Homo sapiens: one gene and its partners. The protein of the gene in region 3 purifies or fractionates together with the protein of the main gene of each other region. This does not show direct contact. Each region holds a gene or a part of one and is shown on either strand. Other genes may lie near its edges.

The links. The genes of interacting proteins can lie anywhere in the genome.
Region 1: the proteins of MKNK1 (region 3) and CCDC149 purify together in Homo sapiens (affinity purification with mass spectrometry; one large-scale study listed by BioGRID and IntAct). This does not show direct contact.
Region 2: the proteins of MKNK1 (region 3) and NUP210 purify together in Homo sapiens (affinity purification with mass spectrometry; one large-scale study listed by BioGRID and IntAct). This does not show direct contact.

Annotation. Positions count from the first base shown.
Region 1 is NC_000004.12:24,910,243-24,914,295, reverse strand, and holds the start of CCDC149 (coiled-coil domain-containing protein 149), read left to right. Parts: upstream 1-1,253; 5' UTR 1,254-1,431; coding exon 1,432-1,479; intron 1,480-3,469; exon of another isoform or gene 3,470-3,524; intron 3,525-4,053.
Region 2 is NC_000003.12:13,322,823-13,326,322, forward strand, and holds part of NUP210 (nuclear pore membrane glycoprotein 210 precursor), read right to left. Parts: intron 3,110-3,500; coding exon 2,973-3,109; intron 611-2,972; coding exon 487-610; intron 1-486. UniProt on the Homo sapiens protein: Nucleoporin essential for nuclear pore assembly and fusion, nuclear pore spacing, as well as structural integrity.
Region 3 is NC_000001.11:46,583,769-46,587,268, forward strand, and holds part of MKNK1 (MAP kinase-interacting serine/threonine-protein kinase 1), read right to left. Parts: exon of another isoform or gene 2,466-3,500; intron 2,207-2,465; exon of another isoform or gene 2,122-2,206; coding exon of another isoform or gene 2,106-2,121; exon of another isoform or gene 1,728-2,105; intron 1,280-1,727; exon of another isoform or gene 891-1,279; intron 885-890; exon of another isoform or gene 831-884; coding exon of another isoform or gene 690-830; intron 1-689. UniProt on the Homo sapiens protein: May play a role in the response to environmental stress and cytokines. Appears to regulate translation by phosphorylating EIF4E, thus increasing the affinity of this protein for the 7-methylguanosine-containing mRNA cap.

The DNA.
Region 1 (4,053 bases), on a different chromosome or scaffold from region 3:
AGAAGGGGAATGATTGCTGCCATTTTGCAAACAGTCTATCATGTGCAAAACAAGGCCAAGAACAAACTTTCAAGGTGATACTTCATTCTTAGATTTCCAAGATGCTAGAGCCAGAAGTCCTAGTTGAGTCCCTGTTTCTCCACGTTTCAGGCCTCAGTTTCCCCATCTAATAAATGAGGATAACATCCATTTCACAGGGTTGATCCAGGATCAACAGGGGCTAAAAATTATAAATAAATGTTGGTAATGATGCTTCCACAACTGTACAATGGGTTCACAACTTCTCAACCTACTTGCTCATCTCCACACACAGCGTTTCTGCGAGTACAGAGGGCTCACTATTGATAGTGGTCCAAGAGGGGATTTTAGGTGTCACAGGAACAGCACCTTGAATACGATTGACTTATGTGTGTGATTCACCTTCCCTCTGTCATTCTCTTTCAGTCTTTCCTCTTAGGAGAAGTCTCAGCTTAATGCCAATGCCTTCCCCTTTTGCTAATTATTTTATTTTTTGTAAAGAGGGGGTGTGTCACTTTGTGGCCGAGGCTGCTCTTGAACTCCTGTCCTCAAGGGATCCTCCTGCCTCAGCCTCCCAAGGTGCTGGGATTACAGGCATGAGCCATGGAATGCCACCAGTGCCAATTTGTCTTTGACACCTCTCTCAACCCATGCTAACCATCTCCCTCAGAGTTTTTGGCCCTATTTAGAATTGAATAATGCTTTATTTTCAATTTTTACATTTGCTTTCTATTAATGACAAATGATACGTTAAAAAATATATAAGCAAGCACTAATAGTTTAAAAAACAATGCTAAGTATATAATAAAACGTGGTTCATTCATTCTTGCGTTCAACAAATATTCGTCCAATAAATATATGTAGAGCATCTCCTATGGGCCAGGATCTTGCCAAAGGCACATCTGCGAACCAAGGAAACCCCTGCCCTCGGGGAGCTTGCATTCTAGGCGTGGGAGTCGTGATGGTGGTCGGAGAAGGACTGGATTTGGGGATTTGCTTCTTGCGGGGGACACAGGCCTGCCCGTGGGGCCCGCCTCCCGCGCGGAGAGCGCTGAGGGGTCCGGAGTGACCTGTAGGCTGAGACCCTGGCTTCCCCTTGCCTAGAGGCCGGGCAGGAGGCGCGGAGCCCGAGGTCGCGGGGCTGAGGGCGCGGGGCGGGCCCGGCGGGGCTCGGCTGCGGCCCGGGCTGTGTCTGCGGCCCCGGCGGCCGCGCCCCTCCTCCCTTTCCCTCCGGCGGAGGCTGACGTGGAGTCAACAGCGCTGGCGGCCGCGAGAGGCGGCGGCGCAGCGGCTCGGAGGCGCCGGGCCCTCTCGGGGCCGCGCGGGGCCCGGGCGGCGGCGGCGACGCGACGTCGCGAGGAGGAGGAGGCGGCGGGGGTCCAGGAGGCCGGCCAGCGCATGGAGGAGGAGGCCATGAACGGCGACCGGACTGAGAGCGACTGGCAGGGGCTGGTGAGCGAGGTGAGGCCGCGGCGCCGGCCAGGCGGGATGGGCCGGGCCGAGCGGCCGCCAGCCCCGGGCCCGCGCCCCCAGAGAGGCCGAGCTGGGAGGGACGAGAGGGGGGCGCGCACTCCAAGTGGCCGCGGCTGCCGCACCCGCGCGACCCCGCCAGGTGCGCCGCTCCTCCTGCACTTTCGGGTCTGCGCGGGCGCCACTTTCTTCCGCGCCATCTGGTGTCAGCCTTTGGGGAGGGGCCTTCCCCCCAAGGCAGGGGTTGGCCCTGGATTGGAGGCTGAAGCCCTGGGATCCGGGAGCAGAAGGTGCCAAGCCCCACCTGCCTGCCCGCTCGCCACTGTTGTGGAGCCAAACAATTGGACGCCTGGGACTGAAACGGGAAGGTGGTGCCATGGGGGAGAATCCGAGCCCTGGGGTGGAACCTGGGCCAGGTGGAATTACCTGCGGCGGTGGTTCGAGTTGGGGGAGTTCGGGGGTCCGCTGCAGCCGTTCACTCATTCACTTGCTCAATTCAATCAACACGTGTTTACTGCAGGCCTACCATGTGTAAGGTGGGGAGGGGCATTTATCGAAAAAGTGAAACACAGGTGCAGAAGTGATTCGATTTGTGGAAGCACAGAACACCGTGTCCCCCTGCCCTGCGACTCTTTTGTCATAAACATACCCTGGGGGTCCACTTTCAGGATCCTATGCTGTTTGCTCTTCAGTTCCCCCTAAGAGTTTGCCGGCCTGCCGGGAGAAGCTGCCGGCCTCTCCAGGTGAGAGGGAATGCGGATTTCTCCCTCTCACCTGGAGGCAACCAGGTAAGTTGCCCTGGTTTGCCACCATTTGTGGGGGCAATTCCTGGTGTTACTTACCCATGCCGGGGAATTTCTCCCTTCTGAGAACCAAGCTCCAGCCAAGGCCAACTTGGGGCTTCCTTTTCTTTAATCCTGTGCACACAATGCAGAGTGTATCGGTTTGCTCTTTTCCTTTCCTTGTGGGTTATGGGAAGGGAAACCCTCTACTCCCTCACTCCTTTCATCGTTTTCTGGGTCTCCAGGTCAGTCTGATAATAGTGCTTCATGCCCAGTGTGTGCAGAGCGTTGTGTTTCTGAAGAGGAATGACATGCGGTAGCTCCTGCCCTAGTTTAGTTTGCTCAGCATTGGTCTAGTAGTTGAAAGCTCTCCTAACTGTCTGGTGTTATGATCCATTGTATTGCAGCCTGGCTCCATCTTCTCAAACTGTCAGGCTTTATGTTAAGGGGCAGATCCTCTGGGGACCTTGTTTCTGGTCCCATCAAGAATCATACTTAGTAGTCAAGGAGGCTGGAGGTAGTTCTCCTTAGAAGTCCAGTGTTAGGCCCTTAAATAGCAGCAGAATCTTCACTACTCCAACAATTGCATATCAGGTGCCTGTTAGGAGTCAGTACATTGTGAGGTGCTTGGGATTCAGTGGTGAATAAGACAAAGAACTCCCCTACCCTCAAAGAACTCCTGGGGGTTTCATGATATAGTCTGGGAGGAAGGTCATACCGTAGACAGTGAGAGTGAACTAAAGGATGGAAAGGCTTCAAGTGCTAAATGGCATGGGGTGCCCCTCAGTTGGCTGGGCTTAACCTTCACCTTGCCCTGACCACATTATTGTAACAATAGGCTTCCTCACTAGGCCGTGTGCTTTGTTTGGTTCTTTATTCCAGGGCCTATACACAGAGCTCTGTATGCAGCAGGTGCTCGAAAAATGCTTGTTGAATAAGTCAGTGAATCCTGAAGTAGGTCCTTCAGGAGTTTTCCTGCCCATCCCAGCAGAGTTTCTCCAGAGTAATACCTCCTTAACTTCACAAACATGAGGTGGGCACGTAGCCAGGGGCCATGGGGGAGGTGAAAATGGGTCTAACTTACTTCCCACCTTAATAATAACTAATGACTATTTTTTGAGTGCATCCTTCATATTAAGCATTTTACATGGCCTCATATTCACAATGACATAAGGTAGGAATTCTTTCTTATTTTACAGATAAGGAAACAGTGGCTCAGACAGGCTAAGGAACTTGCACAGAGCCTCACATCTGGTAAGTGGAAGAGGCAGGATTTGAATCCTGGTCTGTCTGACTCATTGCTTGAGCCTTGCTTGTCTGAGCCTTGCTAGGCCACACTTGCTATTTTAATCATTGCTCATCTGTCTGTATCTTCTGCTAGATGGCAGGCTTCCCAAGGAAGGAGACCATGTCTGATTCAACTTTGAGTCCGCAGCAAATGGCTTGGTGTTTCTTAGAGTATGGCCTACAGATCACCTGCATCAGAGTCATTTTGGGTGCCTGTGAAAAATTCAAGTTTATGGGTCTCTCCCAAATTTACTGTAGTGAGTTGAATTATGTATCCTGCTCCCCCCACCTCCCCACCATAGCTGCATCCGAGACCTAACCCCAGTAGCTGCAAATGTGACTTTATTTGGAAATAGGGCCTTTGCAGATATGATCAAGTTAAGGATCTTTAGATGAGATCACCCTGGATTTAGGGTAGGTCCTAAATCTAATGACTGATACCTTAGAAGAGAAAGGACAGAGATTTAAGCCACAGACACACAAGGGAGCAGGCTAT
Region 2 (3,500 bases), on a different chromosome or scaffold from region 3:
TTCACTCTGCCAGTGAGGTGGTTTAAGAAAACAGCCCTGTTGACTTACTTATTTCTGGCAGCTGCTGTTCAGGGCTGTCATGGGCAGGGGATGGGGTTCAACATTCTATGCATGACCTGGGAGAGGTCATTACAAAAATTAAAACCAGTGACGAGTCCTGCTAATTCATTAGTTTCTGGGATTCACGGTGGGAAATTGTGGCTTTCTTTGCTAGGGTGCCCTCGGGCTGAAGTCACATTTCCAGTGCAGAACAGGCACCTTCTGGGAGCTGGGCTCCATTATGAAGATTCCTTTCACTGGCTCAGCTTTTGGAGGACTCCAATTTCAGAAACGCTGGAAGGAGTGGATGAGTGGGGGCTAAATGCCCTCTCTGGAGTTGGTGTGAGTGTGAATAGGAGAAGCAGATAAACTCCATCCAGAGGACACAGGAAGCCACCTCCCCGCTCCCAGGTACTCTGAAGACAGCCCAAGCCCCTCATTAAGTACCTCTCAGGTTAGAGCTTCTGTCTCCCACGGCAACAATCACTTTGGAGGCTGTAGCCTCCTGGAAGCTGGTCTGGATGGGGTGGAGGTGACGGGCCATGATCCTCTGAGGGACGCTGACCACCACCTAGAGAGGGAGCCAAGGAAGCTTCATGGAGCGCCGCCTGTGTCCCGGTCCATGCTGGGCGTTTCCACAACCTCACCCTGCAGTCTGTGACATAGTGTCACCCGTTTCACAGGTGGCAACACTGAGGCTCAAAGCCTAAACGCCTTGCTAGAATGTGGCAGAGAGGGGGTTTGAGCCCAGTCTGGTCAGACTTCACAGCCCAGTTCTCCCATTGAACAAGCTGCTTCCCCCAGCAGCTGACTGGACGCTGAGCAGCGGGCCTGAATTCATTAATCGATCTGGGTGGGCTGAGGATTTTGGCTGTTCGGACAGCCATGATCACTTCTCTGTAGTACAGCACCACACCCCACCCAGAATCCAGTCTGCCCAGATTTTCCCAGCTGTTCCCCCTGTGCCCATCCTGTACCTGGCCACACCCAAACAGCCCCAGGCTGGAGACCTCCCTGCACTCCCTTGGCTAGGACACCCTCCCATCTTCTCTGCAGAGCCCAGCCTCATCCACCCTTCAGGCCCAAGGCCACTTCCTGCAGCTGAAGGCCCCCCTCCCTCTCTCAGCAGGCACCAGCGCTCCCTGCCTCCAGGAGATCTGATTTCTACCAGTAGGTGAACTTCAGAGCAGGGATGCGATTGAAGCCCCTGCAGCTCCCAGGGATGTGGCCCATGCAGAGCTGTAGGTGACCAGGCATCACTGTCAAACTCACGGTGCCTCCGCTCAGGGCTTACCACCATCCACCTCCAGGGACTGACAGAGGCTGTGTCCCACTCTCTAGCCTGGGACCCCCCAACGCTGGCCCTCCTCTCCCCTTCCTCCCTGTCCACCCTCAGAGAGTGCCCAAGGCTTCCTGGCCCCTCTCCTGCCTGCACTCCTGGAGTGCCCGTGCACTCCCACCCACTCCCAGGGCTTCAGAGGCCACTTCTGGGCTGAGGCCCCCACCCTGTCCAGCCTTCCTCACAGTGCTCCTGCCGCACCCACCCAGGTGTGCCTCCTGCCTCACCTGGGAGAGCTGTGACATCTCTAGCTCCCCGGCCCAGGCTCCTCACCTCCCTGCAGGCCTACCTACCTCTGTGTGCCCCTCTCAGCAAAGGACCAGTAGCAGCCTGGTCATCCCAAGCCCTTCCTCCCCTCCAGCCTCACTTCTGGATGCTCATGGAGCTCTGATGTGCCTCCCTCCCTCCCGTCTCTCCCAAACCTGCCTTTAGATTCTGCCACACCCAGTGATCCCAGCTGAGGGCCTGGCCTCAGTCTCTGGCCAGTTACCCTGTAGCGACTGCTCTCTCGAGCTCCTCCAGGTGCCAGGTAACCTCTGCAAACACAGCCTTGGTCTATAGCACTGTTTAAAAAACTCCACTGAGTGTGGCATAAGCTTCTACCCCTTCACCCTGGAACAGCAGCAGCAGCAGCAGCTAATTTCTGCTGAGCACTGGCTATGAGCTGAGCACCACCCTAGGGGCTTCTGACGTGCTAACTCACTAAATCCTCACAACGCTATCATCCCCATTATACAGGCAAGAAAATCGGGACATAGCGAGACTCAATGATTGCTCAGTCATAGCCTCGCAGTGGCCAAGCTGGGATTTGACCTAGACCGTCTAGCTGTAGATGCCCCACCCTCAACCTGCACCAAACTGCCTGGAATCTGGTGCATTTTCTGATCTGATCACAAAGCCAGACCATGCTTCTCCCACACCCTCTGTTCCAGCCCCCGAGGCTCTGCCCTTGAACCCTACACACCTTTGTCCATGCCACCCCATCCCCTGACCAGAGGCTCTTTCCAGGAGAGCACAGCTGTATTGTCACAGGATGCCTCTGTCTGCAACTGGCTCGCCCAAACTGCAGAGCCGCAGCACTAAATATGCAAACAATTAGGTTAAACTGCTAGGTTCCATAAAGCACATGCTGCCTCTAAAAATGAGATGCATTTGGATCTCAGCCAGACTTGCCCCACTGATTCATTCTCAACTGGAGATGAATGGAAGAGACAGCAGGTTTTGTCGCCTCCAGACTCAAAGGGTGACTTGCACAGGGAGTCTTAGCCTTGCAGGTGACAGGGAAGCACCGGCTCCCAGGAAGTGCCCACTCCGGGGTTGCCAGACCCAAGCCCATGGGAGCTGGAATCCACCCTACAAGGCTGCCTGTCCTCATCACACCCTCTTGAACATGGGGAGACTGAAGCCTGGAAAAAAAAGGGAGCTTGTCCCCATGTCAGAGTCAGCAAGTGGCCAGTCCCAGACTCATGACTCCCAGACCCAACCCCTCAGACGGCTTTTCCCTAAAAGGAAAAGTCTTCATAATCCTCCCAGAAGGTCAGGCCCGCCTCACAGGCCACTGAGCCACATGTGCCTCCGGCTGCTTAGAGCCCACCTCCTTGTAGGTCCTCAGGTGCCCAGCGACCTCATAGTAAACCGTCACGGATCCCACGGCCCGGGCCACAGCCACACCCGTCTTGGGGTCGATGTGGAGGATGCTGTTGGCCGAGGAGCTCCAGGTTCCTGAGAGGCCTGGAGAGGAAGCACAGGTGTCAGCCCCCTTTCCATAGCTGGACACTCCAGTCAAAGCCCAGCTCACCTGGATGACAGGCCAGCTTCCTCGCTGGCTGCCGCTACCCCCATGGGGGCTCACTCAGCAGCCTCAGGAGACAGCCACGCTGCCTGCCCCAGTGCCGGTCATGCTCCTGACTCCAGCCACCTGGAGCCATCAGCTCTCCTACCCTGCTGCACCCGCCCTCTACAGGGCTGTGGCCCCTAGCACCTGCTCTCCCTGACCCACAACTCCCTGCCTGGAATCTCCTGACCATCCTGGCATGAAGCTTTAGCTGACTCCTGCCCAGGAATGGTCTGGTGCTGCTGCCAGGCCCTGCCCTCTGTAGCTCCTTCCCCAAAGCACAGCCCC
Region 3 (3,500 bases):
CATAGGCTCAGCAACATCGCTATGGATGCACACAGGGCACAAATGGCCTGGAGTGGAGACAGCCTCTGTGAAGGTAGCAATAGGGCTGGGGTTCAAAATAGCCCCAAATTACTTCATGTCCAAGAGCACGGACTTGAGTGCCTATGGAGCCTACGGCATCCTCTCCTCCCATAGCTCCTCCATCGGAAGGGCTGCAGGTAGTGCCCATTCAGAAGTCGGCAGTTGACAGGTCTGTGCCAGGCTGCTGGATGAGGTCACTTATTGCAAAAAACCTTATTATCTTTCATTGGCAAGCACCTGGCTCCCAATCTTAAAAGGAGGATTTGTGAGGCAGGCATTCAGACACTGCACAGATTGGGCAGAAAAAGTCCGGATGGAAAGAATAAGCAGGACACTGAGATAGGAAAGAGAAAAGGAGGAACAGTGAACCAGTGCCCAATCACAGTCCTGTTTCTAAGACACTCTAGTATGGGCCTTTCCCTGTTAAAGATAAATTACTTATAGAACATGTCATGCCCCTGATCCAGAGTGGAGCTTTAATACTCTTTGCCTGCAGTTAGAAATAATAAGATTTCTCCGAAGTCTCTGGGTCTAAATCCCCACCAGCGTGATTAAACCTTTACATCCTTCTAAAATAGAGGCACTCGAGTGCTGATGGGGCATACGATGTGAGAGACTTTTAGACCAACCTTCAATAAACACAGGCTCTTGGTTGTTGGTGTTTTTTTTTTTTTTTCTTTCTTTTTTTTCTGAGAGCTTTTAAAATGGAAGCTGGTTCTTTGCCCATTGAGGGGAAAGGCCCACTCTCTTCTCAGAGGATCTGGCGGCATACGACCAGAGAAAGAGCAAGTCTGCTAGGAAGACTGATTAGTGCTCATGCAGGTCCATACACTGTTCTCAGACGCAAGTACGTGACAGCCATCCGGAGAGAGCACACAGGATGGCACTTTCAACACCACAATCCAGAAAGCATGGTTACGCAGCCAAGTGCCTGACAGCTCAATTTAGGCGCATTCTTCCATCCATTTTGGGGATCTGATGACAGCACATTTTAAATTATAGTTTAGAATGGGGAACAGATAAACACACAGATAAAAGAAATCCACAGAGCATCTCAAAATATAACTCTAGCCAAGAGCTTCAAACACAAGATATATCTGGGGACTGCAACACCCTATGAATTGAAAGAATTAAACATCTGGCTAGGCACCATGGCTCACGCCTGTAATCCCAGCGCTTTGGGATGCCGAGGTAGGCAGATCACTTGAGGTCAGAAGTTCGAGACCATCGTGGCCAACATGGTGAAACCTGTCTCTACTAAAAATACAAAAATTAGCTGGGTGTGGTGGCGGGTGCCTGTAGTGCCAGCTACTCGGGAGGCTGAGGCAGGAGAATCGCTTGAACCTGGGAGGCAGAGGTTGCAGTGAGCCGAGATCACGCCATTGCACTCCAGCCTGGGTGACAGAGCAAGATTCCGTCTCAAAAAAAAAAAAAAAAAAAAAAAAAAAAAAAAAAAAAAAAAAAAAAAAAAAAAATCAGCACCTCAACACCCACCCTCACCAAGGTAAATTAAAAGGAAAAAAGCTGCCCAAATGTATAACATGGTGAGAAATTCAGCAGAAATAAAACACAGGGTCACTCATCTTCAGGAGCTCAGGGAGGGGGTGCTGGCCATCGGGGCAGCAGGCTGAGAAGGAGGAACCATTGTCTCTCTCTCTTGCGCTGACCTTGAATGCAGTCCAGTGGCAACCCGTGTCTGCATCTATTTTCTCATCGGCACCGCAGGCCCAGTGCAGAGGAAACAGATTTGGGTTTCAGCTCTTTCTCCTTCCCCTGTCCACACTTTGATGGAGGGCCCCAGGACAAGCAAAACAGCCAAAAGACAGGCAGAGCAGAGGAGCAGCAAGAGGGCTGGAGGCATTATAATTCACAGGGGACACTCAGGCACACGACTCTAATGAGAAAACCCTGTTAGCGACAATTTATACTTGGTCTTTACCACAGCAGGGCTGAGGGAGCCGCTTGCACGAGAAGCATACCTCACAGCACCACCGCACACGTAACATTAGATTTTATGGCTTCACACACACACAAAGACAGAGTACCTGGTATATTCTGCATGGATTTCAATGAAAGAGGGTACGCCAGAAGGGACAAATGGTTAAGACTTTCCTTGGAAATGGAACTTGGAGAGTTGTTTCTGAAACTAGGAAGGAAAAAATGTAGGAAGATGGGTGAAGTGAAAGAAACATGCTTAGCTTCCCTGGTTACACAGGGGGAAGCGAGAGGTGTCATAATCTCACCAAGGGGTCGCTAGTTGCCCATGTGGAGCCTGGCCACACACTATTTTCATCACAGAGTCCACTAGCAGGTCTGTGGGGCCTTAATTCATCATGCAAACACTCATGGGATAAATGCTGCCTCAGGGAGTGGGACCCCCGCAGTAAAGCTGCACCTTGGCTCACCTGCTTCCCTTGGCCTAGGAATTCTTCTTGGTCATCAAAAGCCGGCTCGATAGTCCCAACCCTTTTGCAGCTCCCTGATAACTCCAGATGAGTTAAGGTTTCTACAGAGACTCTGGAAGTCAGTTAGGTGCTATGCAAATGGAGGGTGTTACTGAGCAGAACTAGTAGTTGGTGCTCCATCCTCTGCTCCCAAACACCCTGCGAGAAGCTCCACGAGGGCACTGATTTTATTTGGCCTTGAGTGCTCCCCTGTGTTCCTAAAGGCTGAGATTGTCCCCTGTTCACTTGTTTCTCCTACAGATCATGGCACAGTGTCAGACACATAGCAGCCATCAGAAATTGCACTGAAATAGAAATGATATGAAATGACATGCATACTGTTAGGTGTGGGGTATGTCACACTGGCCTTTTAGGTACCCAGTGCACATCCTGAAAGAAACATGGGTACAACTTTGCCCTGTAGACAATGCAGAGTAAGGCTACTTAGTTTTATGAATCCAGTTCAGGAATTCTACTAATTCCTGGATAAACTCCCTTTCGAAAAAGGGTCTAGGACACAAAACGTCCTTCACTTTCTTATCTTTTCTTTTCTTTTTGAGATGGAGTCTTGCTCTGTCACCCAAGCTGGAATGCAGTGGAGTGCAGCTCAGTACAACCTCTGCCTCCCGGGTTCAAGCGATTCTCCTGCCTCAGCCTCCAGAGTAGCTGGGACTACAGGCACATGCCACCATGTCCGGCTAATTTTTTGTACTTTTTAGTAGAGACGGGGTTTCGCCATGTTGGCCAGGCTGGTCTCAAACTCCTGACCTCAGGTGATCCGCCTGCCTTGGCCTCCCAAAGTGCTGGGATTACAGACGTGAACCACTGCGCCCAGCCAGGTCCTTCACTTTCTAAACAGAAGCCTGGTTCTTGCTATAGGATTGGGCAATGTGTCTGTTATTACAGAGGAAGAAGTGAGCACTTCTTTTCAGTTTCAGGCAGATCCCAGCTGGTCTGGAGGCTCCCAGCACTTCCGCTGCCTCCAGCCCTTGCCTT